4 linked regions of the Homo sapiens genome follow. The protein of the gene in region 3 purifies or fractionates together with the protein of the main gene of each other region. This does not show direct contact. Each region holds a gene or a part of one and is shown on either strand. Other genes may lie near its edges. The genes, in order: POLR2H, POLR3H, POLR3D and POLR1D.

Evidence for each region.
Region 1: the proteins of POLR3D (region 3) and POLR2H purify together in Homo sapiens (affinity purification with mass spectrometry; 4 studies listed by BioGRID and IntAct, with this or other methods). This does not show direct contact.
Region 2: the proteins of POLR3D (region 3) and POLR3H purify together in Homo sapiens (affinity purification with mass spectrometry; 8 studies listed by BioGRID and IntAct, with this or other methods). This does not show direct contact.
Region 4: the proteins of POLR3D (region 3) and POLR1D purify together in Homo sapiens (affinity purification with mass spectrometry; 8 studies listed by BioGRID and IntAct, with this or other methods). This does not show direct contact.

The regions. Positions count from the first base shown.
Region 1 is NC_000003.12:184,356,848-184,364,709, forward strand, and holds the start of POLR2H (DNA-directed RNA polymerases I, II, and III subunit RPABC3), read left to right. Parts: upstream 1-4,862; 5' UTR 4,863-5,299; intron 5,300-5,393; exon of another isoform or gene 5,394-5,657; intron 5,658-5,758; exon of another isoform or gene 5,759-5,877; intron 5,878-6,025; 5' UTR 6,026-6,645; coding exon 6,646-6,718; exon of another isoform or gene 6,719-6,727; intron 6,728-7,862. Other genes in the region: CLCN2 (chloride channel protein 2), read right to left, coding at 146-247, 335-419, 515-640, 773-851, 932-1,009, 1,115-1,248, 1,335-1,463, 1,835-1,966 and 2 more. UniProt on the Homo sapiens protein: DNA-dependent RNA polymerase catalyzes the transcription of DNA into RNA using the four ribonucleoside triphosphates as substrates.
Region 2 is NC_000022.11:41,541,468-41,548,307, reverse strand, and holds the start of POLR3H (DNA-directed RNA polymerase III subunit RPC8), read left to right. Parts: upstream 1-3,837; 5' UTR 3,838-4,206; coding exon 4,207-4,317; intron 4,318-6,840.
Region 3 is NC_000008.11:22,248,126-22,255,118, forward strand, and holds the end of POLR3D (DNA-directed RNA polymerase III subunit RPC4), read left to right. Parts: intron 1-28; coding exon 29-153; intron 154-355; coding exon 356-524; intron 525-918; coding exon 919-1,184; intron 1,185-1,949; coding exon 1,950-2,102; intron 2,103-2,270; coding exon 2,271-2,393; 3' UTR 2,394-6,476; downstream 6,477-6,993. UniProt on the Homo sapiens protein: DNA-dependent RNA polymerase catalyzes the transcription of DNA into RNA using the four ribonucleoside triphosphates as substrates.
Region 4 is NC_000013.11:27,617,846-27,623,958, forward strand, and holds POLR1D (DNA-directed RNA polymerases I and III subunit RPAC2), read left to right. Parts: upstream 1-4,046; 5' UTR 4,047-4,138; coding exon 4,139-4,164; intron 4,165-5,029; coding exon 5,030-5,405; 3' UTR 5,406-5,604; downstream 5,605-6,113.

The sequences.
Region 1 (7,862 bases), on a different chromosome or scaffold from region 3:
CAGTCAGCCTGGAAAACACTGCTGGCTGATTTCTCAGTGAAGTGCCTGTTTTGACTGGGCCATTCTCTCCCCATCACTGTCCCCTGACCTACTGTGGCCCTTATACAACTCAAAGCAGCCTGGAGAGGAGCCGAGAGCCACTCACTTCCTCATGAGGAAGCGATTGATGGTTTTCTGCTTCCGCATCACCTGGACAATCTTCCGGTTCAGGTAGACAAAGAGGGCTCCACCGAAGCCACTAGCAATACTGGAAAGGGAAGAGGCACCTGAGTGAAAAGGAGCCTTCTAGAAACCCCCCTCCTCTCTGATACCCCCAGCCCCCTCAGCTCCTCACCCAATGACAGCAAAGGCTGGCAGCTCCTGCAGGTCAAAGGGGAAGTCGAGCCGGAATCGGGTTTTGAAGAGGGCTGTAATAGTCTCTAAAGGGAAGAACAGCAGAGGGAGGCAGGCCTAGCCTCGTGGGCCCCCTACCTGGCACCATCTCGGGCTGCCCTCATCCCCTGGGTGCCCCCACCTTCATCCCGGTTCCAGACTGCCAAGACCCGGAAGATGAAGGCACTGAAGGTGGCAGCGAAGAAGCCCCGCCAGTAGTTCCGCACTGCAAAGAAGGTGGAGGTGACCTCGATGCTGAAGAGGACGCCTGTGAGGGGGAGGGAGACCAGCACTTGAGGCCTGGGCCTGGCCTAAGGCCTCAGACCCAGATAAGAGGGGCCAAGGAGGAGAGGCCAAGGGCAGGGTTGTGGGGCTGGACTGACCTAGGAGCCCTGCCTACCTCCAATAGGTGCCGCGAAGCAGCAGCCCACCCCCACGGCACAGGCGGCAGCCAGCATCTCTGTGTTCCGGGATTCATTCTGGCGAGAGTGGTGGCAAGAGGGGGTCAGCTGTGGGCTCAGCAGCCTCTGCCCCCTACTTGCCCCAGGGTTCCCCTTACCTCATAGATACCCCCAAAGAGGGAGAGGAACTTGCTGAGAAGGGCAGCACACATGCTTGCGATATGCACAAAAGGGCCCTGCGGGGTGGGGCAGGCGGTGAGTCGGGAGGGGGCCCGCCCTGACCTTGGCCTGGCCTCCTCTTCCACCAGGAGGGACTCCTTCATTCCCCAGCCTGCAGTTACCTCTTTGCCAAGCGGCATCCCGCTGCCTAGGGCGCAGGTCAGCCCAATGACCTTAGCTATAAAGGTCTTGAGTGTGAGGTATTCTTTCAGCACCACTCCCCGCAAGATGGTCTTCATCTCAGGGATGCCAGAGCCTGGAGAGGGAACAGTCTCAGGAGAGGCATTCGATGCACCCATTTCAGGGGTCCCGCCTCTGCCCTCCCCTTCTCTTCTAACATACCGACAGCCTGAGGGGCCAGGATCTGTGTGAATCCGGCTGAGAAAGTGATGAGGACAACAGGGTAGGTGACCCAGGCCAGGTACTGGAGCAAGATGCTGGTGTTCAAGCCCCGGGACATCCACTGCTGGGCTGTGGGAAGAGGACCTGCTGGACCCCCAGTGCACACACCCACTGCCTGCCTGGCCAGTGGACCACGCTGATACGACAGGCTGTCCCAGGGAGTACCACACAGAGTCAGGGCATGGGTGAAGGAAAGGGTCCCTGAGGGTATTCACTGGGACAAAGCGCAATCTAGGCAAGAGGATCACTTGGAGAGGGGATGCAAGAAGCTGTGCCCTGTGGGAGTGGCCGAGATGATGCCTGAATCTGGGCAGTCAGACTGGCTGGGGAAAGTGGTCAGTGGCCAAGAAGCCAAGACGCCTTCCTCCATGTCTAGACGAGTGTGGCATGGACGCAGGAGGTTTATTCCCAGTCCTCCCCCTGCCAGCTGTCACCCTCACCTTGCAGACAGGCAGCAATGGCATAGTCCATGACCCAGCTGACCAATGCCATGAGAAGCCCCAGCAGGACCAGGAAGATCCAATCTTCACCAACCCTGGATACTAGGAACTTGTGGCAGCGGACAGAACAGACTGGGTGCAGGGAAGGGAAGAAGGGGGAGGATGGCACCAAAGTGCTCCTACCCCTTTTACTGCCCCCTCAACTGTCCCCTCTCCCCCATCAGCAGCTCTAATGGCCTCTGCTTCCCTCAGCACAGCACAGCCAGGTCCCCTGCCCCCACCCCAGTTCTCACCGCGGCATCGGGCGCAACGGCTCCGTCCATATTCCAAGAGCTCTGGGGCAGCCCGAGAGGAAGGGGGACCTTTCCAGGGTTCAGGCCCTCCCAGGCGAATCCGAGCAGCTTCCTCTTTGGCAAAGGCCCCAAGGTCCTGAGTGTACCGGCCATACATCTGGAGCAACAGAGGGGATGGGGGCATTCGAGGTCATGGGCTGAGTGGGAACGCAGGGAGAGTTCTTAGAGCCTCCACTCCTCTTCTCCCAGCCCCCACACTGGATATCCCTCTTGAACGCACAGTTCCCACTCTGGCCCGAGGTGTGGGAACAATGCACATTGCAGACTGTGGAGGCTGTCCTGGCCAGAGTGATGGGGACAGCCAAGGTACAGGGACACAGCTCTGGGGGTGGCAGAATAATCGGTCCTCTTCTCACAGGCCTGGGGCTGGGGCACTGAAGAGGAGTGAGAGGGAAGCCCCAGAAGAGGAAAAGGTGGAAAAACCTGTGGCACAGTCTAAAAGTGGGAGGCGGGAAGGCCAGGGAGTAAGGGATGATCAGGGGCACATGGGCAACAATAAGAGCCTCGTGGAGCTCGGGGCAGCTGAGTTGGGCCCAGGAGCAGGCGCAGCCCCAATCCTTATCACGTTCCTGCTGGGCCTCCGGCCTGTGACCAACTCAGCTGCACCTCTCCCACCCACCCTAATCCCCTTGTCCCCATTCTCCACTGCCACCCCCACCAGCCTGCCAGCCCAGCTGGGAGTGGAAAGCCTCTCACTTAGGGTGGGTGGAGAGGGCTTGGTGGCCTCAGCCCCATTCTGGAGCTGCACTGAGCCCAGCGGTGGGTTGGGGGACAGCGGAGGCTGAGGATGGCTGGGCTGTGACTGTGGATGCTGGGGTGATGGGACGGGAGAGTCGCCTGAACCATGGCTAGACCTGCCAAGCTGGGCGTGTGTTGGGGGGCGGGGAGGAGTAGATTCTGGCTGCCACCCGCAGAGCTTCGGGACACAAAGGGCTCCTGTTGGGGCTGGGATGGGGGGGAGGGAGGGAGGGAAAGATAGAGACAGAGAGAGGGTGAGAGATAGGAAAGGGAAAGCAAAGAGAAGAGAGGGAACTAGAGAGGAGAAAGTAGAAGAGAAAAGAGAGGGAAGGCGAAGGGATGGAGAAGAGAAAGAAGGGGATGAGAGAGGAAGAAGTACGGAGGAGGAAGAGAATGGAGAGTATTAAGAGGCAAGCACGGTGTAGGAGGAGGGAGGTGAGAGTGGGAGAGAAAGACAAAGGGATAGGATGGTGAAGGGGGGCGGGAGCAGGCTGGAGCACAGAGTGCCCGGGACAGAGCTCGACCCTGAGAGCTCATTCCAGAGACAGCTGGAAGGGACGGAGATGGAGAGGTGGCTGGTGTTAAGAGGCACCATTTCAGAGGCCAGGTGCCTGGCTTCCTTGACCATGCTCCTATCCTGGTCTGGGCAGATTGGCAAGTGTCTCCTACCCCATCCCAAGGGTTGGCCCCTCTACCCTTGCTCTACTCCCACCTCTCCCTGACATCCTGATTCATCCAGCTACTTTCTCCTAACTGGGCACCTCCCAGACTTATAGCCTCTCCTCTCCAAGACGTTCCCTCCCTGCCACCTTCCTGGGCAAATTCCAGCCCAAGCTGGTAAAAAGGAACCACGGGCCCCTTCCTTTCCCTAGGGCTTGGGTCTTCCACCCCAGTGACATGAGGAGGGTCACGTGGCTTCTCAAACACCAAGTAACAATGGGGGCGATAAGTCAGCTCAGAGCCCAGGACCCCTGCTTCTAATGAGGTCAGGGGACACACCCTGGGGTGGGTGGGGGCTGGATACCCCGCATCAGCATAGACAAAGGTCCCAATTCCCACACCCATTCCTGCTTCACCCACCCTCCCTAAAGCTCCTGTCCCCCAGAGTGGCAAGCCACCTTTTTCCAGAGTCAACTGAGGGGCTCCTGGAGCCAACGCTGGGTGTGGAGCCTCCAGAGGTAGGGTCTGGGGCTGACCATCTTTCTACACACTCGATTCTATGCTTAGCATGGTGCCATGCACATGGCAGGGACACAGAGAATGTCTTGGGTGGTGGAGATAGTGGCGTAGAGAAAGTTCAATGGTGTGAATGGTGCCGCGGAAGGGGCAGTGGGGTGCTGAGACTTGGGCCCAGGTGGTGAAGGGGAGGTGCAAAGAAAACGTGCATGTTGTGGGGTGAGGGGAAGGACACCTGAGACAAGTACCTGGTGTCCTTGTCCTCTGCAGGCCCTCAGCCTCAGCCAGAAACCAGCATGCAGTTTTCCATCCCTTCGGCCCTGCAGCCTCAGACTTCCAAGCCTCAGTTTCCCCAGCTCAAAATGCTAGGACAGGATTAGGGTAGGCCCCTGGTCCTCGCGCTTCCCAGGGTAACCTGGAGCAGGGGTCCCGGAGCGCACTCCTGGGGCTCAGCTCAGCTTCACTTACCAGGGTCTGCTCGTACTGCAGCGCCCGTGGCTCCATCCCTTCCTCCGCCGCCGCGGCCGCCATCTCCGCGCACTGCCCTCTCGCCTCCCTCGGCGGTTCCGGCTCTGTCCTGGACTCGGCTCCCGGCCCGCAAAGTCCGCGCCGGCAGCCGTCCCGTCCCCGCAGCCCGGGAGGCCGAGAGCAGAGTGCGGCGGGCCCCCGGCGGGCGCCGCTGGCGCAGCCTCCCGCTCGCGTCCCCTCCCCGGCGGGCGGGCCGAGGGCGGTGCCCTCTGCGCTGCTCCGCCCGCCGGCCCATCCGGAGGGGACGGCCCAGCCAGGCTGGGGTCCGCGCGGGGCCTCCCGAGAGGCGGCAAGGGGCGCTGGGAAGGCGCAAGCCCGCGCCGGCTCCCTGCGGATGCCCGGGTCGGAGAGGGGCGCCCGGGAGGGGCGGGTCTACTGGCACGTGGAGGGGCCGGCCCGGGTTCGCGGTTCCCCGTGCCCAGGCAGGAGGGGCTGCAGACGCCTGAGCTCCGTAGGGGTTGGGGCTGGGGGCTGCGGAGCTGTCTACATCGGACTCCTCCGGGTCAGCCCGTTAGGAGCCGCCTCCCCTCTGCCCCTCCGAAGAGACGAGCGGCCCAGACAGGCCTGGGAAGGCCCCTCTGCCCCGTCAGGGGTGAAAAGCAAAGCTGGAAGGATTCGGAGAGGGTTGGGGCCGTCTTCCTCATCCTTCCTTTTCTCGGGGCTCCCGTGGGTAGGTGCACTTGGAGCAACCGGGCCTGCGGGGTGTGCGGGGGTGGAGGTTGGGGAGGGCACCGGAAGGGGTAGGCCGGAGGGAAGGGAGCTCCAGGTGCCGGGAAGTCTACTCCTGGGACGCGGGCGTGGGTCGCTTCTCCCTGGCTGGGCCCAAGGAGGAACCCAAGTCGCTGCTTCCATCCCTCCGCTTTGGGGGAACTGCCTGCTGGTGTTCTGGGTTCTCTATCAGGGGCTGGGGAAGGATAGAACAGAGGGCGGAGCGCGCGCAGGGTGGATGGGCAGCGTAGAGATAGTGTGAGAGGAGCGAGGGCAGCGCCCAGGAAACGCACAAGTGTGCGGGAGAGCCAGCACCAGGAGTAAGGGGCATTTGGGAGGCAGAGGCGGGGCTCAGGGGGCGGGAGCAGTGCCCGGGAAGGGGGGGCCTTGTGATAGAAGCCAGCACTCAGGAGGAAGGGCCAGTGTGAGGGAAGAGCTGGTATCCAAGGGACAGGGCAGTGCCAGGCTGAAGGGGCACGGAGGGGATCCGTGTCCAGGAGAAGGCAGTGGAGGGGGAACGCGCAGCACTAAGCTGGAGGGGTAATGCCCGGGGGAGGGGGGTGGCGGGAGCCCGGCTGAAGGGGCGGTGTAGGGGAAGAGAGCAGGGCCTGGGGGGAAGAGGGAGGGCAGTGGTGGGAGGGTGCAGTACGAGAGGAGGGGACAATGCAGGCTTTCCTCTTCTCCATAGCGACGTCATGGCAAATTCCCAAACTGGACGGATCCGGCTCGGGTTACGTCCAGCAGGGCCGAGCCGGCCCAGGCCGGCCCCGGGGTCCTCGGTGCCGGCTGGAGGGGCTGGGCACCTCTGGGGCGGGGTTCTGCTCCACCTGCCCTCGGCGCGGACTGTGCCCTCGGCGGGCACGCGGACCGGCGGGGTAGGGCTAGGGCCCGGCTTCTCTGGGCCAAGGATCAAGGTCCCTGCCTGGGTTAGGCCCCCACGCATTCCAGTCTTCGGAACCCGGCCTCTGAAGAGGGCGCAGTAGGGCCCCAGCGGAGCGCGAGAACCCGCTCTACAGCCTATTGCTTCCCCGCCCTGGGCAGAGCCACCTGGACATGAGACCCGCCCTCAATGCCGAAGCCTCTCGGAAGCAATCTTTCGGGACGGAAGTTAAGTAGCCCCGAGCGGGAGGCTGTGGCGGAAGTGGTCGCGTTACCGCTTGTTTGTGCGCATGCGCCACTCTCGTCTGGCCGCCGCGCTTTCAGGAGGTGCTTTTGGTTCTCTCCGGTCTTGTCCACGCTAGGGGGTGCACGTACTCCCAACTGTGGTCGCGCTCTCACCCCTTCTGCTGCTCTCGTGGCCCCCTCGCGATGGCGGGCATCCTGTTTGAGGATATTTTCGATGTGAAGGATATTGACCCGGAGGGCAAGAAGTTTGACCGAGGTAAGTAAGGTATGTAGGGGCGGTTTGGAGGAAGAGGCTAACCTCGCGGACATGCCCCTGGGCCCCGTGTCCACCCAGCTCTTGTGGCCTGCCCCTACCAGCAGGTCCTGGTGTAGGGACCTCCCTCAGTAAACATTTTATGGATGAGAAAACGGAGACTCCCGAGCTCTCTCTGGCTTCACGCATGCCGTGCCCGGTGCCTGGGTGGCCTTTTGTCATGGTGCTGGCAAACTCCTAGGCATATTTATAATCGCTACCTGCTCTGTGCTAGACACTGTCTTGTGAGACCAGCCTGGCCAACATGGTGAAACCCCGTCTCTACCAAAAATACAAAAATTAGCCTGGCGTGGTGGCGGGCGCCTGTAATCCCAGCTACTTGGGAGGCTAAGGCAGGAGAATTGCCTGAACCTGGGAGGCGGAGGTTGCAGTGAGCCAAGATCGCGCCACTGCACGCCAGCCTGGGCGGCAGAGCGAGACTCCGTCTCAAAAAAATGACAGTCCTCATGAGGTGGGTGGTGCCTTTCCCATTTTTCTCTGAGAGGTTGAGTAAACCACCCAAGGCTTCACAGCGAGTAATCTGACTTCAGAGCCTATATTCTTGTATTGCCCTCAGAATCTTTAGCGCTTTGTGAAGTCTTCTTTGAGTTAGAGTTAGCTGCTTGGTATATACCTTTTTTTTTTTGAGACGCAGCCTTTCTCTGTTGCCCAGGCTGGAGTGTAGTGGCACGATTTTAGCTCACCACAACCTCCGTCTCCCGGGTTCAAGCGATTCTCTGCCTCAACCTCCCAAGTAGCTGGGATTACAGGCATGCGCCACCACGCCTGGCTAATTTTGTATTTTTAGTAGAGACAGGGTTTCACCGTGTTGGCCAGGCTGGTCTCAAACTCCTGATCTCAAATGATCCACCTGCCTCGGCCTCCCAAAATGTCGGGATTACAGGCATGAGCCACTGCACCGGCCTACACCTCTTTATTTTGTCATCTATCAATAATTTTCTCTTTGATGTCTCTTTCTTTGCCTGGAGACTAAGATGTTTTTCAAGACGGATACCAGTTCTTATACATCTTGGTCACTCCCCTCAGCACAGTGCCTAGCATAGAAAGAGAAAACCTTTGGATGATTGAATAACTTGCCCAGAGTCAG
Region 2 (6,840 bases), on a different chromosome or scaffold from region 3:
CTGTTTTGGGCTGTTCTCACGTTGCTATAAAGAAATACCTGGGCCTGGCGTGGTGGCTCACGCCTGTAATCCCAGCACTTTGGGAGGCCGAGGCAGGCAGATCACCTGAGGTCATGAGTTTGAGACAAGCCTGGTCAACATGGTGAAACCCCGTGTCTACTAAAACTACAAAAATTAGCCAGTCGTGGTGGCATGTGCCTATACTCTCAGCCACTCAGGAGGCTGAGGCAGGAGAATCGCTTGAACTCAGGAGGCGGAGGTTGCGGTGAGCTGAGATGGCACCTCTGCACTCCAACCTGGGTGACACGCACAAAAAAAAAAAGAAAGAAAAAAGAAATACCTGGCTGGTAGTGGTGGCTCATGCCTGTAATCCCAGCACTTTGGGAGGCCGAAGCTGAGGATCACTTGAGGTCAAGAGTTTCAGACCAGCCTGGCCAACATGGCAAAACCTTGTCTCTACTGAAAGTACCAAAATTATCCAGGTGTGGTGGTGCACGCCTGTAATCCCAGCTAGTCTGGAGGCTGAGGCAGAAGAATCGCTTGAAATGGGGAGGTGGAGGTTGCAGTGAGCCCTGATAGCGCCACTGCACTCCAGCCTGGGCAACAGAGCTGGTTAATTTATAAAGAAAATAGGCTGGCTGGGCACGGTGGCTCACGCCTGTAATCCCAGCACTTTGGGAGCCCAAGGCGGGTGGATCATGAGGTGAGGAGATCGAGGCCATCCTGACTAACACGGTGAAACCTCATCTCTACTAAAAATACAAAAAACTAGCTGGGCGTGGTAGCGGGTGCCTGTAGTCCTAGCTACTTGGGAGGCTGAGGCAGGAGAATGGCATGAACCCGGGAGGTGGAGCTTGCAGTGAGCCGAGATCATGCCACTGCACTCCAGCCTGGGCGACAGAGCAAGAATCCGTCTCAAAAAAAAAAAAATAGGTTTAGTTGGCTCATGGTTCCACAGGCTTTACAGCAAGCATGGTACTGGCATAGGCTCAGCTTCCAGGGATGCCTCGGGAAGCTTCCCATGATATCGGAAATCAAAGGAGGAGCAGGCACATCACATGGGGAAAAGAGGAGCAAGAGAGAGAGTGGGAGGAGGGAGGTGCTACACACTTTTTTTTTCAAGATGGAGTTTTGCTCTTGTTGCCGAAGCTGGAGTACAATAGCGCGATCTCTGCTCACCAGAACCGCCACCTCCTGGGTTCAAGCGATTCTTCTGCCTCAGCCTTCCTGAGTAGCTGGGATTACAGGCATGCGCCACCACGCCCGGCTAATTTTGTATTTAGTAGAGACGGGGTTTCTCCATGTTGGTCAGGCTGGTCTTGAACTCCTGACCTCAGGTGATCCGCCCACCTTGGCCTCCCAAAGTGCTGGGATTACAGGCATGAGCCACACGCCTGGCCACCACACACTTTTTTTTTTTGAGACGGAGTCTCACTTTGTCGCCAGGCTGGAGTGCAGTGGTGTGATCTCAGCTCACTGCAACCTCTGCCTCCCGGGTTCAAGTGATTCTTCTGCCTCAGCCTCCCAAGTAGCTGGGACCACAGGCGCGTGCCACCACGCCCGGCTACTTTTTTTTTTTTTTTTTTTTTTTTGTATTTTTAGTAGAGACAGAGTTTCACCGTGTTAGCCAGGATAGTCTCAATCTCCTGACCTTGTGATCCACCCACCTCGGCCTCCCAAAGTGATGGGATTACAGGTGTGAACCACCACGCCTGGCCCCGCCACATACTTTTAAATGACCAGATATTGGCTAGTCACGGTGGCTCATGCCTGTAATCTCAGCACTTTGAGAGGCCAAGATGGGGGGGATCACCTGAGGTCAGGAGTTCGAAACCAGCCTGGCCAACATGGTGAAATCTTATCTAAAAATACAAAAGTTAGCTAAGTGTGGTGGTGGGCACCTGTAATTCCAGCTATTTGGGAAGCTGAGGCAGGAGAATCGCTTGAACCCAGGAGGTGGAGGTTGCATTGAGCTGAGATCATGCCACTGCACTCCAGTCTGGGCGACAGAGCAAGATTCCGTCTCAAAAGAAAAAAAAAAGAAAAGGCCTGAACCGAAGCAATAGCAGTGGGAGTGGAATGAAGAGGAAACATTTGAGAGGAAGAATTAATGGTAATCCCTAAACACCTTTACTCAATGCTTCCTAGGAATGTGTTAGGGGATTGTGGGAATAAAGAGCTGAAGTAGCATTTGCTGCTGTCCTCAAGTACCTCAAATCCTATAGAAGCACACCTAAAAATAAAATCATAGATGCAGGGAAGGCCACATTTAGCATCACTGCAGCCAGTGTCACTGAGAGATCACTATGCTTGTGAAATCAGCAAATTAAGGCACCATACATTTCCAAGTGCCTCTGTCATTTACCCCAAGTATCTTTTGTAAGTACCTAAATTGTTATTTTGGTTAAAACACACTACAAGCCCGGGCGCGGTGGCTCACACCTGTAATCCCAGCACTTTGGAAGGCTGAGGTGGGCAGATCATGAGGTCAGGAGATCGAGACCATCCTGGCTAACACGGTGAAACCTCGTCTCTACTAAAAAAAAATACGAAAAATTAGCCAGGCGTGATGGTGGGCGCCTGTAGTCTCAGCTACTCGGGAGGCTAAGGCAGGAGAATGGCGTGAACCCGAGAGGCGGAGCTTGCAGTGAGCCAAGATCGCGCCACTGCACTCCAGCCTGGGCGACAGAGCGATCCTCCGTCTCAAACAAACAAACAAACAAAAAAACCCACTACAGTATACATCTACACCCCACCAATTTTTAGAGGCAGGGTAGTGAGGTTCAGACTGGGCCCACCTCTACCACTTGTCAACACGTGATCTTGGGTAAGCTACCAAATTCTCTTAGCCCATGCTATCACGTGAAGATGAATGAGACTGGAATGTCAGCGAGACAGAGCATGATGGGGCTATAGGAGGGGGGTATGGTCAGATCTTGCAGGGCCGTGTGAACTACCATAAAGGTTTTGGACTTTTCTTCTTTCTTTCTTCTTTTCTTTCTTCTTTCCCTTTTCTTTCTTCTTTCTTCTTCTTCTTCTCCTTCTTCTTTCTTCTTCTTCCGCCTCTCCTTCTTCTTCTTTTTCGTTTAGACATGAGGTGTCACTGTCACCCATGCTAGAGTGCAGCATGCAACCTCAAACTGCAACCTCAAACTCCTGGACTCAAGCGATGCTGCTGTCTCAGGCTTCTGAGTAGGTGGGACTACGGGTGTACACCACCACGCCCGGCTTGGATCTAGTATTCTAAGTTCAATGGGTTGTGTTTTTTGTTCCAATTTATTATAACTTTTCAATTGGAACATAATGTCTACAAATAAATGCAAAAATCTTGCCGAGTTCAATTAGTTTGGACAATTATATACGTCAATGTTATACCACCGAAAACAAAATACAGAACATTTCCATCATCTCAGAACAGTCCCAAGTGCCCCTTTCCTGCTAATTCTCCTTGTCTCCGGAACACTTAAGGGTGCTAAGCATGTTATGTTTGCGGTGGGTTTTTTTTTTAACTTAGATGTGGTAATATATGTTTGCGTTTCCAAAGGATCACTCTGGCTGCCGAGCAGAGGACAGCAATGCGGGTAAAGCACAGGCCAGGCGAGGGATAATCAGGCGGGATTGCACGGAGGTCGCCTAGCAACAGAAAGCGCTGTCGGGGGCGGGGGAACCGCTCTGCTCCTGTGAAAGGAGGAGGCCCCGCCCTCTCCTCGCCCTCTCTCTGCCCCACGCTGTGCGCGAGCACACAGGCAGCCCCGCCCCGCCTCGGCGGGGTGGGGGTGGACAGAGGTTTCTTATTGGTGAGTTTTCCGGAAGCGATGGATTCGGAATCTCGCCCGCAGTCGCGCAAGCGCGAGCGGCTGTGCGCGGTGCGTGGTGCGTGGTGCGTGATACGAGCGGCGGCACGTGGCGCGGGTGCGGGGCGTGGAGTGGCGTGGCGTGGAGTGGCGTGGCGTGGCGGGGTCTCGCGGCGCGGGCGCGCACCCGGAGCTGTGGACGGAGAGTGCCTCCCTCTGGCCTCAGTTTCCTCATGTTGTAGTAGCGGAGCATGGCCCGGACCGGGCCCCCGAGACCGCCCCGTGCAACCTCACCGCCAGCCTGGGGGCCTCAGCGACTGGGACGGGACCAAGGGGCTCGGGGATTCTCCCTGCCCCCGGCCCTGGTGCGTGACTGACCCTCCTGTTCCCAGAGCCCCCAGCGCAGGCCGGGATGTTCGTCCTGGTGGAAATGGTGGACACCGTCCGGATCCCCCCTTGGCAGTTTGAGAGGAAGCTCAACGACTCCATTGCCGAGGAGCTGAACAAGAAGTTGGCCAACAAGGTACTGGGCCCACGGCTCGCGGGCAGGCCTTGGCGTGGGAGAGCGAGCGCCGCCCACTGGCCGCAGGCCCGGCCTCGGTCATGCCAAGCCCTGGCCGTGGGCAAGCAGCTTAATGTCTCAGAACTTTTCTTCACCGTGAAAGGAGATATTGAAGGGGATCAAAAGAAAATGGGCTTGAAAAAGGGAGTTGTAACTGGAAGTGTTAGATTCCACAATTCTAAATTACTTTGCAATTGCAGGCAAGTTACTGACCCCTTCTGGGCCTCAGTTTCCATTTTTAAAATGGGGATAAAATATTGCTGTCCTTCCAGCCATGCATTGTTTTTGTTGTTGTTGTTGTTTGTTTTGTTTTGTTTTGTTTTTTGTTTTTGAGACGGAGTCTTGCTCTTTCGTCCAGGCTGGAGTGCAGTGGCGCGATCTCGGCTCACTGCAACCTCCGCCTCCCGGGTTCAAGCGATTCTCCTGCCCCAGCCTCCCGAGTAGCTGGGACAACTACAGGCGCGCGCCACCACCCCCAGCTAATTTTTGTATTTTTCGTAGAGACGGGGTTTCACCATTTTGGCCAGGATGGTCTCGATCTCTTGATCCCCCCGCCTCGGCCTCCCAAAGTGCTGGGATTACAGGTGTGCGCCATCGCCTCGGGTCAATGCATTGTTTTCGTGAAGATGGAGAGTTCTAGTAGTACAGAATTAACTGTCAGGAGGTTCATCCCTTCATTCCAGCAGCCAATATTTGTGCGCCTTCTCTGTGCTGTGCCTGTGTGCCTTAGTACCAGCTGAGAGGTCTTCCCACTGCCGTTTCTTTGACAGTCCTCCCTTTCCAGGTATTCTGTGTCACATCACTCTCTTTCCTTCTTAGACTTTTTCCTTTCCCTCTCCTTGAGAGCAGGGACCTTATCTGCCTTCTTCCCTGAAGTATCCCCTCATTTAGCCAAAGCCTGGCGGGAGTAGATGTCCCATAATTTTCTGTTTTGTGTTTGTGTGTGTGAGACAAGAGTGCCGCTCTTGTCGCCCAGGCTGGGGTGCAATGAAGCGATCTTGGCTCACTGCAACCTCCACCTCCCAGGTTCAAGCTATTCTTCTGCTTCAGCCTCCTGAGTAGCTGGGATTACAGGCACCTGCCACCACACCTGGCTAATTTTTGTACTTTTAGTAGAGACGGGGTTTCACCATGTTGGCCAGGCTGGTCTCAAACTTCTGACCTCAGGTGATCTGCCTGCCTCAGCCTCCCAAAGTGCTGGAATTACAGGTGTGAGCCACCGTGCCCGGCCATTTGTTGACTGAATGAATGAAACAGAGACAAGGCTCTGTGCTATAGTGTGGTGGGAAAGCAGATATGAATGAGAAGGGTCCACAGTTGAGTGTTTGGTGACAAATTGAGGTAAATGTTATGAGGGACAGGTGTTCACACACCTGTGGAACAAAGGAACGTCCCCTGGAATGAGGGGACCTGCAGCTTTGTTGAGGAGGTGGGGTTGAAGGTGAGATCTGATGGTGAAGTGGAGCCAACCAGAGGATTCCTTTCTAGGGTGGGAGGGGGCTGGGTGGAGAGAAGAGCCCTGAAGGCAGGAACTGGCATGTGCAAAGGCCCTGTGAAGAAGGAATACAGGCCGGGCGTGGGGGCTCACACCTGTAATCCCACCACTTTGGGAGGCTGAGGCGGGTGGATCACCCAAGGTCAGGAGTTTGAGACCAGCCTGTCCAACATGGTGAAGCCCCATGTCTACTAAAAATACAAAAAATAGCTGGGCATGGTGGCAGGCACCTGTAATCCCGGCTACTTGGGAGGCAGAGGGAGAAGAATCACTTGAACCCAGGAGGCAGAGGTTGCAGTGAGCTGAAATCGCACCACTGCCTTCCAGCCTGGGTGACAAGAGTGAAACTTCGCTTCAAAAAAAAAAGAAGAAGGGGTAAAATACCCACCATGGTGTGGAAGAGGCTGGTGTGGCTTGGGCAGAGGGGAGGGTGGGCTGGACAGGTGGGTGGGGGCCAGGCCACACAGCCCTGTAGGATGTCGGAGTTGAGGTATTGGTCTTTATCCGTGGAGCATCAGAAGGTGATGGGCTGAGAAGGAGCCAGAAAGAGGATGCTTAGCTGGCTTTACGCATGAGACAGGTCCCTTCAGAAGAGGTGAGGTTGATTTGGGGGTTGCTAGATAGTGAAGGGAACTCATGGAGTCTTTAAGTGGATGGCTTCTGGTTACTTTGTGAGGTTGAAGATGAGGGTCTGTTGGGGGATGGAGGTGTGGACCTTGAGAGAGAAGGTGTGGAAAGTCCAAGAAGGGAATATAGTCCCTTTGGGGTAGAGGTCCTGTTGGGACAAGTCTTCTAGTATTTGATTAGATGAATCGTTTGAGAGGGGGCCCACACAGAAATCCATGGTCTGACAAAGGGCACAGATCTTGTGGCATTATCTTGGTGAGGTCTGGCCACGACTCTGAGTTCTCTGAGCTTCTTGCTAATTCTTGGACAGTTCTTGCAAGGGTTCTAAGTGGGGGTGATGACACGGTGGCAGATAAGGAGAC
Region 3 (6,993 bases):
CCCTAGTGACCTGGGTGATTTCCCACAGGGAACTGGGATAAGACAGTGGATGTGTCAGACATGGGACCTTCTCATATCATCAACATCAAAAAAGAGAAGAGAGAGACAGACGAAGAAACTAAACAGATCTTGCGTATGCTGGAGAAGGACGATGTGGGTACCAGGAGGCTGGGGGAAGGGGTTTCCTTGTGGCTGTAGAACAGGGCTTCTGGGGAGCCAGGTGAGGGGTAGAAGAGCTTACTGATGTCCTGGAATCCTGGGGAGCAGCGGAATCTTTGGTTAGAAAGGGACTAAAGCAGACTTTGATCCAGGTGCATGTGCTAGCAGGCTGGATGACCCAGACTCTCTTTGGCAGTTCCTCGATGACCCCGGCCTGAGGAACGACACTCGAAATATGCCTGTGCAGCTGCCGCTGGCTCACTCAGGATGGCTTTTTAAGGAAGAAAATGACGAACCAGATGTTAAACCTTGGCTGGCTGGCCCCAAGGAAGAGGACATGGAGGTGGACATACCTGCTGTGAAAGGTACTCTGTCGGTTAACTTCTCATCTCCAATTCCATGGCTGCTCCCCAGGAATCCCGTGCATCAGGCATCCCTTGCATGTGCCCCTGACTGCTGCTCGTGAGCAGGTCCTCCCATTCCGGCTGTAAGATACATGAGCTGAACAAAGATGCTCCATTCTCCCTCGCAGAGGGTTCCTGTGTTGACAGGGAGCAGTGGGCCTAGCCTCAGATGTCCCTTTTTAGATAAGTCATGTGAGACTTGAACGTGTTGTCTCTTGCCCCTCTGTATAACTGGTGCCTCCTTCCCACTCCCTGGCTGAGTGACAGTGGAGCAGACAGGGGCAAAGGGCTGGTAACAGTGAGCTGGTATGGAGGGTGGTCACTTGATAGCATTCCATGTCTATCACCCGGGCAGTGAAAGAGGAGCCACGAGATGAGGAGGAAGAGGCCAAGATGAAGGCTCCTCCCAAAGCAGCCAGGAAGACTCCAGGCCTCCCGAAGGATGTATCTGTGGCAGAGCTGCTGAGGGAGCTGAGCCTCACCAAGGAAGAGGAACTGCTGTTTCTGCAGCTGCCAGACACCCTCCCTGGCCAGCCACCCACCCAGGACATCAAGCCTATCAAGACAGAGGTGCAGGGCGAGGACGGACAGGTGGTGCTCATCAAGCAGGAGAAAGACCGAGTACGCTCAGACAGAGGCCTGCGGGAATCAAGTCGGGGACTGGGACGGGAAGTGGTGACCTGTAGTGGGAAGCAAAGCCGTGTCACCCTGGCTGAAATGGGACAATAATGGGTGGTTATTCTTGACGCCTGCAAGAGCCATGGGGCTTTGTACCTCCAACCCCAATTGTGTATGTGTTGTGGGGGTGTGTGTTCACTTCTTATAAGGAAATATTTCAAACACAAATGAGAGAACATATGGCCAGATGCGGTGGCTCATGCCTCTAATCCCAGCGCTTTGGGAGGCTGAGACAGGAGGATCACTTGAGCCCAGGAGTTCGAGACTAGCCTGGGCAACGTGGTGACACCATGGCTAATACAAAAATTAGCCAGGCATGGTGGCGTGTGCCTGTAGTCCCCGCTACTTGGGAGGCTGAGGCGGGGGAATGGCTTGAGTCCAGGAGGCAGAGGTTGCAGTAAGCCTAGATCATGCCACTATACCCCAACCTTGGCGACAGAGTCAGACCTTGTCTCAAAAAAATAAGAGAACGTAAACCGCCATGTACCAGAACTCAGCTTCAGCAGTAACTGATATTTTGTCCGTGTATGTATTTGTTTGCTGTGGGTTTTGTATTTTAACCATAGCAGACAGCCCTAGGAGAAGGCACTCTTTGGGGAGCTCATTTTGACCTTTGCTGTGCCTTTCTCTTGGGGAGTAGAAGGGGGTTCATGAAAGATGGAGGAAAGAGCTCCTAGCCCAGTGTCCATCCTCTGGTTTTCTCCGCAGGAAGCCAAATTGGCAGAGAATGCTTGTACCCTGGCTGACCTGACAGAGGGTCAGGTTGGCAAGCTACTCATCCGCAAGTCTGGAAGGGTGCAACTCCTCTTGGGCAAGGTGACTCTGGACGTGACCATGGGAACTGCCTGCTCCTTCCTGCAGGTAAGAGCCTCCTTAGGGGCAAGGAGGGACCCTTTCAGGAGTGAAGGAGGATTGAAGAGCCACTGCTAAATAAGGGAGGGGGTTTCTGGGAGTATCATGTCCCCATTCACAGCTCTACACGCCGGGCACGTGGTGGTGGTTCTCATCACTGTCTCTGTTAATTGGCAGGAGCTGGTGTCCGTGGGCCTTGGAGACAGTAGGACAGGGGAGATGACAGTCCTGGGACACGTGAAGCACAAACTTGTATGTTCCCCTGATTTTGAATCCCTCTTGGATCACAAACACCGGTAAAATGAGCAGGTGGAGGAGGACGGCGCCTGTGCCCACGGCTGCTGCCTGCTCCAGACATTTTGTTCTTGAATCTGTGAGACCCAGAAGGGGCCCACTGAGCCCACTCACTCCAGCCTTTGGCAACCATTGTTCCAGGTCCCCCAGGGCTTCCTCCCACAGCAGCTGTGAATGGCACAGTGACCTTCCTGCAGCGTGGAGATGGCACATCCTTGCTGCTGGGGACTTGGCCCTGCTATTTATTTTTGTATTTATGTCTTAATCTCTTCCACTGATGCATCCTCCAAGGGTAGATGGGGAGGGTCTGTGTGAAGGGGCCGGCTTCTCTTGGTGCCTGCTGGGTTGCAGGGGCAGGAAGCGTGTGGACTGCAGCTTCTGCTGGTGCTCCCCCCGTCCTCCTGGAGGCAGTATAGGAGAGAGAGCAAGGATTGAGTCTGAGACTTAAGCACTCGGTCCCAGCTTGCCAGTTCCTGGTTCTGTGTCCTTGGACAAACTACCTAACCTTTCTGAGCCTCCTATACCTCATCCGACACAAATGGGGATGATACCTACCTCCAGGGTTGGCGTGAGGATTCATGGGCTATTATAGATGAAAACTGCACAAGGCCAGAACCAGCAGGCACTCAATAAACGTTCATGTCCTTTTTCTCTACCTGAGTCTATTTTCAAACAAAATAGAGATTCTAAATCTCCCAGAAGCAGCGACTAGAGCTGCTCCCGTCCCCACTCTTGCCCCTTCCTGCTTTATATCCCGTCCTCACCCTGGGCCTGATGCCCTAAATTTATGGTGTCAGATTGTTCTATGCCTTTTTCTCCTGGCTCCTGTTAGCCAGGTGCCTCCTGTGTGAGTTACTGTAATAGCTGCAGGTAATAGAAAGGAAGAAGTCAGAGACCCCTCCCAGCACCCTACAAAAGCCTTTGGGGGACATGTTGGGCCCAGGACATGTTCCCTGCACTCTTTCCTTTGCAGTTAGTACTCATGTATGAGCCGAAGTCATATATTGCTAACAAAAAAACTAAATCCTTCATAAGAGAAGTTAGGGATGTATTGAATAATGGCCTCTTTGACACTTGGCCGATGATGCCCACTTCAAAAACTTTGGGTTTCAGAGGCCTGCCCGTCTCCTGTCCTAGCACTGCCAGAGCCACCTACTCAGTGTTACTTTTTTGGGTCTGTGATCCTGTTCCCTTTACCAGGTCATTGTACTGTGTTGTCCCTGGAGGAACAGCTTCTCCTCTTGTCTTGACAGTAGGGCTGGGGTTTTCCCTGGTTCAGCTGGGGAGACGTTTGCAGGTTAGAAAAAGGTCTCATGCGGCAGCGTGTGTGGCTGTTAGACGCTGATGGCACAACTTCCCTTTGCTGGCGTCGTGGCACCTGGCCTCTGGGACAGTATGAACCATAGGGGCTCAGGAAGAACCGCTTCCCCTCCACCCCCATCCCTGATTCCTAGTGGCCCCTTAGATTTTGGGTACATCTTCCTTCAGGCTCACCTTCCTTCTTTTCAAAGTTCCTCAAGCCTGTTACTCATTTGTCAAGGCTGGGCTTCTCCTACAAAGCCCTCAACCTGCCCAGCCAGCAGCTGTGAGGCTGACTGAATATTTGGTGACCATATCACCCTTTCTGGTGCTGAAGCTCATGTCAGCTCCATTGGACAGTGTTATTCTGGGCTCTTCTCACTGTAGAGGACTGGAGCAGAAAGGGTTCCTTGGAAACCTGTGCTGGGAAGCCCTGTTTGGTCTAAGGCTAAGCTTTGGTTAACTCTGGGCTCCAGCCCTTTCTTCCTTTAAATAGCTGATGCACGGCCAGCAGGTCTCCATTCTCATCCTCTCTTTCTATTCTGTTTCTTTGGTTCAGAAATACTCTTCTGCTTTTTTTGGACGAACTCAATGGCCCGATGTTAGATATTGGGTATTTTTCAATCTTCTGTTTTCTGACCCTTCCAAGAAAGTTTGAGGAAGAACATGTACTGCTTTCACGTTCATTTCGCCCATTCAGATGTCTTGGCTTGAACCTTATGACTCCGTATCAAAGTCCTCACAACCTGTCTCAGATCCCTGATGCACAAATTAGGTCTTATTAATAAGTGTGGGAAAAGAGAGGAGAGTCCACCTTCTTGGTCAGGCCCCTGAGGCATGCATTTCTACCAAGGAATATGGACAGATGACAGAGGAGAAGAGCCCAAAGCCAAATTTATACATGAGTGCAAGTGGATGCAAATTTGTTGCTCCCTGCATCTGTGTATATGCTTTCTGTTAAATACAGAAAGAAGGAACAATAGGCTTGCACACTTTTCTAACTACATGTTTAAGTGGCAGAGTCCAGGCTGTCGAGTCACGGTTGGGTTTGAATCTGACTCCACCAGTAACTTTGGTTGGAAAAAATCACTTATCCTCTTTAAGCTTGATTTTATTTATTTTATTTTATGTAAGAGTGAGACAGTAGTAGCTTAATAGGGTTGCTTTTAAATTAGAGTGAACATGAGGCATTTATTCGGTGCCAGACAGATAACTGCCTATAACAGGATGTGATCAGCACAAGTAACAGAAAATTAGCCTGACGGTGGCTTAAGCAATGGGAATGTTTATCTCACATAGCAAAAAGTCTGTAAATAGATGGTTCTAGAGTTGGGTGGAAGCCAAAATGTCATCAGGATTTCCTTGGAACCGTCTGCTTTGCCATCCTCAGTATTGCAGAATGGCTGCTCCTGCGCCAAGCATCATTCTGCAAATGATGGTGTCCACAGCCAGAGTGGACAGTAGTACAGGAGCCTTCTCATTCTGCCCTTATCCGGGAATAACCGTCAGCAGCTCCAGCAACCTCCCCCCTGTCTCTTTATAGAGTGGGGCCACGTGCCCACTCTTGGACCAGGCCCTGGCAAAGGGGGATGGGTCGACTAGTGTATCCCCTGGCACTGAGCACACTTGCCCTTGAGCTGGGGTTTTGTTAGTAGGGAGGAAGCTGGAGTGGCAGTTGGATAGACAATTCATAGTAGCTGCTGCCATGTTCAAAAAATGCTGCAATGTAAAATCATAAAGTATTCATCTAGGCATAACTTTTTAAAATATTCAGTCACCTTTTATTCTACTAAAATCAATTTTAACATTTTAGTGTATATTATTTTATTTTAGATTCAGCAGGTACATGAGCATGTTAGTTTTGTTTTGTTTTGTTTTGTTCTGTTTTGTTTTTTGAGATGGAGTCTCACTCTGTCGCCCAGTGGTGTGATCTTGGCTTACTGCAACTCTGTCTCCCAGGTTCAAGTGATCCTCCCGCCTCAGCCCCCCAGATAGCTGGGATTACAGGCACATGCCACCACACCTGGCTAATTTTTGTATTTTTAGTAGAGACGGGAGTTTCACCATGTTGGCCAGGCTGGTCTCAAACTCCTCACCTCAAGTGATCTACCTGCCTCAGCCTCCCAAGTGCTGGGATTACAGGCGTGAGCCACTGCGCCCAGCCACATGTGCGTGTTTGTGTATATTGCGTACTGGTGGGGATTGGGCTTCTGTCATACCTATCACCCAAATAGTGAACATTGTACTCAGGTAGCATTTCAACCCTTGCCCCCCCTCCCACTCACCCCCTTTTGGAGTGCCCAGTGTTTGCTATTTCCATCTTTATGTCCATAGGTACCCATTATTTAGCTCCCACTTATAAGTGAGAACATGTGCTATTTGATTTTCTGTTTCCGAGGTTAGGATAATTACCTCAAGCTCCATCCATGTGGCTGCAAAGCACATGATTTCATTGTATTTTATGACTGCTCATGTATATTATTTCAGCCTCCAAAATTTTGTATGTTATTTATAATGATATAAATTATGTGGTTTTATCGTGTACTCTATCTCACTCAGAAATACATACAATTCTTCGTTCCCAGCTACTCTGGAGCTGAGGTGGGAGGATCACTTGAGCCCAGGAGTTCAAGACCAGCCTGGGCAACATGGTGAAACCTTGTCTCTGAAAAATAAATAATACACACCCACATGCACACACATCCAGTTCTTCCATGTTAATGAGTATGTTGTGTTTCACATACTTCTGAATTAGCCGAAGGAATTAAAGGTAGCATCTTTTAATCCTCAGACTGCCCTGCGTGGTCCGATTGAATTGGGCAGTCAGCACTAGGCTCTTCAAAGGGAAACAGGCTTCTTTCTTAGGACGGTGCACAGTGAAAGAGTGGCACACACGCTGTTCATCCAGTGCTCCAACCCCCAGTCCTGGTGTCAGATACTTCTACATTTGGGGCATTTCCCCTTGAGATGGCTGTGGCTAGCGACACATGATGTGAACACCTCTCTTGGATTGTGGTTCGGCCGCACAAGGCCCCATCAGAGTTCTACAGGTGGAGTGTGGGGCCCAGAAGGGGCTCAGGTCTTAGGGGTGTCATCTGAAAAAACAGAGATGGTGATGGGACACCAGTTCTAGGAGCCCTCTGCATGGCCACTTTCTGCCTCAGCTCTTCTAAAGCATTTCTTCTGTTCCCTTCCATTGGGGTAACCACTGATCTGTCTTCCCAAAAACTGAGTCAGAAGTTGGACTTTGTTACTTGGCTCATCTACATTTAAGATATAGTCAGAAAAAAAATGCAGTCTTTACATC
Region 4 (6,113 bases), on a different chromosome or scaffold from region 3:
AATTGTTTTTAACTGCTCCTTCTCATATCCTCCAACATTCCACTAGCTCATTAATGTCATCATCTAAAGGAACAACTAATATTTACTGAGCACTTGGAATGTGCTAGGTACCCTGCCAAAGGCATTACATGCATAATTCCTCAAACCCTACTCAACAGGTACGACAATCATTTCCCAAATGTTAGGAAATCAAAGTTCTGTCAGGATAGTTATTCTAAGGGTAAGTAATAGAATTAGAATTTGACCCGTTTTAATTTCACAGCCAGCTTACCCAGTACATGTCAATCAATGCCTGAAGTCAAACAACCCAGGATTCATCCTTCCCTCCTTAAGCCTACCCAGTCACTTACCTAGTCCAGCCTCCTAGTCATACCTCTTAAACACCACGTCATTTCTCCTTCCACTGCCAGCACACTAGCATTTACTAAGTCCTTACTATCTGGCAATCACTATTCTAAGTAATAGACATGTTTTTTCAAGTTCTATCCCCCAAACTCTGAGATGACAAACCTAAGGAACAAAGAGGTTTCAGTGTATGACAGAGCCTGATTCCACCCCAGGTAATCTGAATAGAGAATCCCTGAGCACTTAACCCCTCCATTAGAACAGCCTCCAACTTAGTCTCCATATCGCCCATCTGGAAGCCCACCATCCTCCAGACGCTGCAGATATCTTTCTGGAATGCTTACCCGTTATCATGACATTCTCCTGCTTAAAATTAGCAGCTCAGTATCACTGACTGGATAAAGTCCAAATTTCTTAATCTGGTATAAAAAATCCTTCATTTTTCTGTTCAAGTCAATTCAGTAAATATTTTAGTGCCCAATGTAAGCAAGAAAAGGTGCCAAGTGTTCTGAAATGAATAATACATGTCCCTGACTACTACCTCCACCTCGGACACTGGGTCCTTCGGCCAGACAAGCCCATATGCAAAGCTCGTAATACAACAGCCCAAAGACACATACATTTATTTTTAAGTGGCCTGCGTGCTACGTGCCTACAATGTACGAAATCCCAAACCAATCTGAAGACTAAGTGCCTACGTAACACCTATTCTTACAGGTCTCCAGGCAGAAATGCTCCCTAAGTTCAAATTACTTCAGGGTAACTAGTGGGATAAAGGCATGGATCAGTTTCCAAATGAGAAAACTGGGCAAGAAGCAACCCCCGCCATCAATGGCTGGCATGCAGTAGGTACTTTATCAGTGGCTAAATGAATAAATAATGAAAAAATTTCAAAGTTGATGAGAGAAACAAGATATATGGAGAATGTAACACACAAGTGGGCCGAATTAAAAGTGATGTTATTCTACTTTGGTTCTCATTTGGCCTACTTTTACCCCATGGGAAAACTCACATGTGGGACTCGGACAAGCTAAAAAGCCAAAACTTTGTTATTCATGGCTCAACAAAGCTTTGACAAGCCAAAAAGGATACCAGATTCCCGCTTCCTTCTTTACCTGCCAAAGTCCATTTTCTAAAGAGGTGTGGGGGTGGGAATCAAATCTAGCAAAGTAAATAAAATTGATCTACTGAGATCCAACTTCATTAGTGCTGCATCGAAGTACATGCAAAAGAAATATCAAAACCTGTCCTGGGAAGAAGGCCAATTTACAAGTAAGTACTATTGCCGCAAGAATGTGAAATTCTTAAAGGCAGTTCCAATAAGCTGGAGCTCACAAGTGTTCCTCCTCCTGCACCGCCACCGCTTTTCACTCAACTTTGTTTCTGATTTCTGTGATTTTAAAAAGCATAATATACACAGCAAAGCCCATGCATAAGTGTACTTTAGCTCCTGGTACAAACGAACGTCTGGATTCATAAACTTAACGTAAACTGAAATACTAAAAGAAACACTACATGAGTCAAAAGTCCTTGTTTAAAACGTGGCATACAGCTTTGAAAAGCGAGTGATGTATTTCCTGAATGATGCTTTGTGTGCAACTGCTTCCAAATCAAGATTCATATTTTTAAATTACCCCCTGGAAGATGTCAAATCTCTCTCCCACCCTCTCCAGCCTAAAGAGAAAGGTGAGAATTCACAGGCAACAGGCTGGGGCGGAGGGAATGATCTCTCCCCATCCCTTTCCAGAGAACAAAACCCGATAAAGGCAGCTAGTGCCACTCTCATTGCCGACACCACACACACACAGAGGAAATTTAAACACTCACCCCACCTCTCCCTTCCCTTAAGAAGCAAACGACGCCAAGCTCTGCACCACGGTGGCCGGAACCAGCAAACGCTAACAGCCGGAGGCCGCCCGCCTCCCGGGCGCCTGCAGGCGGCGGGCACCGGGCGCCGACTCTCCCTCCTGGACCAGACCCACACCCGAGTCCACGCCAGCCCCGCAGCCCGGGCGAGCGAAGACAGCCGCGAAGGACCAAGGCTCCGGGGCGAGCTGTGGCGCCGCTCCGGCCGCCTCCCGGGGCGCGGCGCTGACCCACACCCAGCTGACGCCCGCACCTGAGGCGGCTGCCCGCAGCCAGCGAGAGGGCGCGCAGCGAGGCGGGCAGGGCAAAGTTACTCACTGGGAAAGCGCGGCTGCCCGGGCCGCGCACGGGCTCCTGGCGCCGCTGCTCGGCACCAGCTCCCGCTCTCCGCGGCCCGCTGAGGGAGCGGAGAGCCTGCCCGGCTCCGCTCCGCCAGGAATCGCCGCCGCCGCCGCCGCCGCCGCGGATTTCCTGGCAAAAAGCAAACTCCGGCCAAGACTTCACTTCTCAACCGCCCCTGCTGCCTTCCCGGGGGCAGCGCCAAGGCCGAGCGGCCCAACCCGCACCCGGGCCAATCGGAGGTAGCACAGGGCGGGAGGTGGGCGGACCAGAGGGCGGCTCCACCTATCCGAGAGCTCGGGAGGCGGGCCAGAAGGGACCCGTCACTCCCGGGTTAGAGTGAGACCACTCCGCCCTCGCCGCCCGCCTCCCCCACTCGCCCCGGGCTGTCCCCGCCGCCCGCCTGATTCCCCTGCGGAAGCCCCGCTGGCTAGGTGTCTGCGCGCACCCCCGGCCGCCGCCAAGAGTGGCACAGCTGGGGAAGGAGTGAACATCCAGAGGAATCGCGGGGCGGGGTGGGGGGAGGCCAGGAGAACAGGTGGCGCAGGGAAGCAGAAACGTAGTTGCGCTGGACAGCTGGAGTCGGGCAGGGTCGGGGCCAGCGGCGAGGGGACAAGAAGGGCCGATTCGAGAGGAAGCGCACCTGAGGGAGCACAGCGAAGGCCGGGACGCAGGGAGCTGGATGGAGAGCGAGCCTGGGCGGCGAAAGGTTGCCGAGGCGGGGGCTGGGCGCCTGGGAACAAAGGTGAGGGCGGGTTCCGCAGGTGAGGAGGTTTGAGGAGCCACTGGGGAGAAAGGGAAAAGGAAGTCTACAGCCGGAGAGGACGCGCTCTGGGGGTAGAAGGAATCCTAGGACGGAAAGGATAAGGTGGGAAACAGTTTTCTCCCAAACTCTCACTCCCCCAAAAGAGACATTTCTTTCTTGCCCTATTTTGACCCAGTTGAAAATGCAACTGCAAGCTCCCCGGTGAAACAAATACCGCCTTCAACCTTCGTATTCTGTGGTGACTCATCTCGCACGTGACCCCCCTCCCTCTTCAAGGTGTGTTGACCGACTACAGTTTAAGCCTGTCGTCCCACAAAAGGCCCGGGAGGGCCGGGGTCCCAGGAAGGGCCATCCTGGGTCAACACCGCCCCAGTTGGGAAGTCGGGCCGCTTTCGGACTTGCCACTGGGAAGGGAAGTGATTTGGGGGCGGCAGGTAAGGCCGCGCCCCTTCGCCATCACCTGGGGAAAGGTACCAGAGTTGAGCCGGGGCGCCCGCAGGCCTGTCTGGGCCTCGGGGTAAGGCGGCGCTGGCCCCGCCCCCTGCCCCTCCCGCCGCGAGTGGCCTCGCGTGGTCGCCCAGGTGAGCCGCGGGGCCGCGAGCCACCGCTCACCCCGCGTCGGGGCGGGGGCTGGGGGTGGAGCCTCATGCCCCGCCCCGCGGCTGGGCCCTGCCGCGCCGCTGCGGCTCCTCCTCCCTCCTTCCGTCCTCCGCGCCTTCCGTCGGTCGGTCCTTGCTTCCTGCTTCGCCTCCGCGCCTCGCGCTATGGGACAGAGCCCCCGATCCGCCAGCACCACCTGAGGATCCAGAAACCGCCCCAGCGATGGAAGAGGATCAGGAGCTGGAGAGGTAACGGCCGAGGAGGAGGCGGGCGGAGCGGGCCGCGCCCAAGGGGAGCGGGTGGCCGAGGGGCACGCTGCCTGGCCTGGCAGCCGGGGCCTGACTCGGGGCGCAGAGAAGAAGCATGGAGAGAGAAGTGGGGAGGAGACATGAATGTGTTTCAGTTGAGAGGCTGAGAGGTACACTAGCTATCAAGGAGGGAAGACAAGTTGGGAGACCAGAGTTAAGTATCCGAACTGCCCACCCCCGTTACAACAGCAGTGTGTAAAAATCACGCCCCGGGCCTCTGCTCCTGAGGACGGTACTCGTGCCTCTGTCCCTGTAACTACGGCTCACCTTCTTTCTATGTGCAGACTGCTCCTAAAGCCACTCTGTGCGCTGAGCTCTTTTTCTCCCTGCTGCTTGACTCCTGAACCTTCCATTCTCCTAGTTTCCTTCTCTTGCAAAATGGAAGCCGTAGTTGGGCCTGCACATTGATCATCTGTATCCTCTATTTTTATACTAGAGCAATCGGGATTTCTATGCCTTTCAACCCTCTCTTCATCCTCTAGCAGGACCAGTCCTATTCTAATCCTATCCCTTGCTTGTGACTCTACCAAAAAATATTTTTGCAAACACTTAAGTTTGTGTTTTTCTAAGAAAACTCCCCTTGTGGCCAGTGTGGATGGTCAAATGGAGCAGGGAAAAACTGGAGGCAATAAATTAAATATTTATTGATAGAGTTTGTGGAGGCAGGAAAATGAGAGGCGAATAATTCTGTGTAGCTGGAGTAGATTAATAATAATGTGTTGCAATGTGATATAGTAAATGAGAAAAAGCTAGTTACAAAACAATATTCAGTATGATCTCATTTTTATAAAAAATATGTGTGTAGAAAAATATCTGGATTGAAGACCTCAATGGCTGAAGGCGAGAGGAAGACAGCCCTGGAAATGGTCCAGGCAGCTGGAACAGATAGACACTGTGTGACATTTGTATTGCACGAGGAAGACCATACCCTAGGAAATTCTCTACGTTACATGATCATGAAGAACCCGGAAGTGGAATTTTGTGGTTACACTACGACCCATCCTTCAGAGAGCAAAATTAATTTACGCATTCAGACTCGAGGTACCCTTCCAGCTGTTGAGCCATTTCAGAGAGGCCTGAATGAGCTCATGAATGTCTGCCAACATGTGCTTGACAAGTTTGAGGCCAGCATAAAGGACTATAAGGATCAAAAAGCAAGCAGAAATGAATCCACATTCTAGTCCTTTATGCAGTATACAAGGAGAACTGTCCTGTAGGATATTCTCTTCCTGATGGTGCAGAACCCAGAATTAGAAGTTTGTGGTTACAGCATACTCTGTCCTTCAGAAAGGCGTGATTCTAGCTGTTGACCCCTTGCAGCTGTTGGAATCTCTGCAAGAACCTCTGTATTCTTCTAATAAATTCCCTCTTTTATTTAAACTAGTTTGACTGGTTTCTGTTCCATGCAACCAAATGGTCCTTGAGGATGACTTTTTTTCTAATTAAGCCAGCATTGAAAATGAGGAAACTGAGAATATCAGAGGCCTAGACAAGAACTGTGATCATGGGAATTAAAAGAAGTATATATCCATGTCTGTAGTTGGAGTGGTGGGGGTAAGGGAAGAGACAAAAACCATGACCCCAGTTAGATTGTTGTTTAAAAACAGAAGGAAAGAAGATTGGGGTGGGGACTTGGCTTCTTGCTAAACTTTTTGGCTTTTAAAGAATTGCATCATTTGCTGTGATTGGTAGACTTGGCAAGGGTGGGAATAATTTGGAAGAAGTGTGAGAATTCTGGTTTTACATGAGAGTTTTAGGGAGTAAGGCTCCATCTTTGAGGCATTTACAGGAAAGATACCAGTTTACTGCTTGAATTTTGGGATATACTTAGTCATGATCTAAGTAAGGTAAGATGTTTTGATTATATTACAGAAGGAGAAAATTGGGAT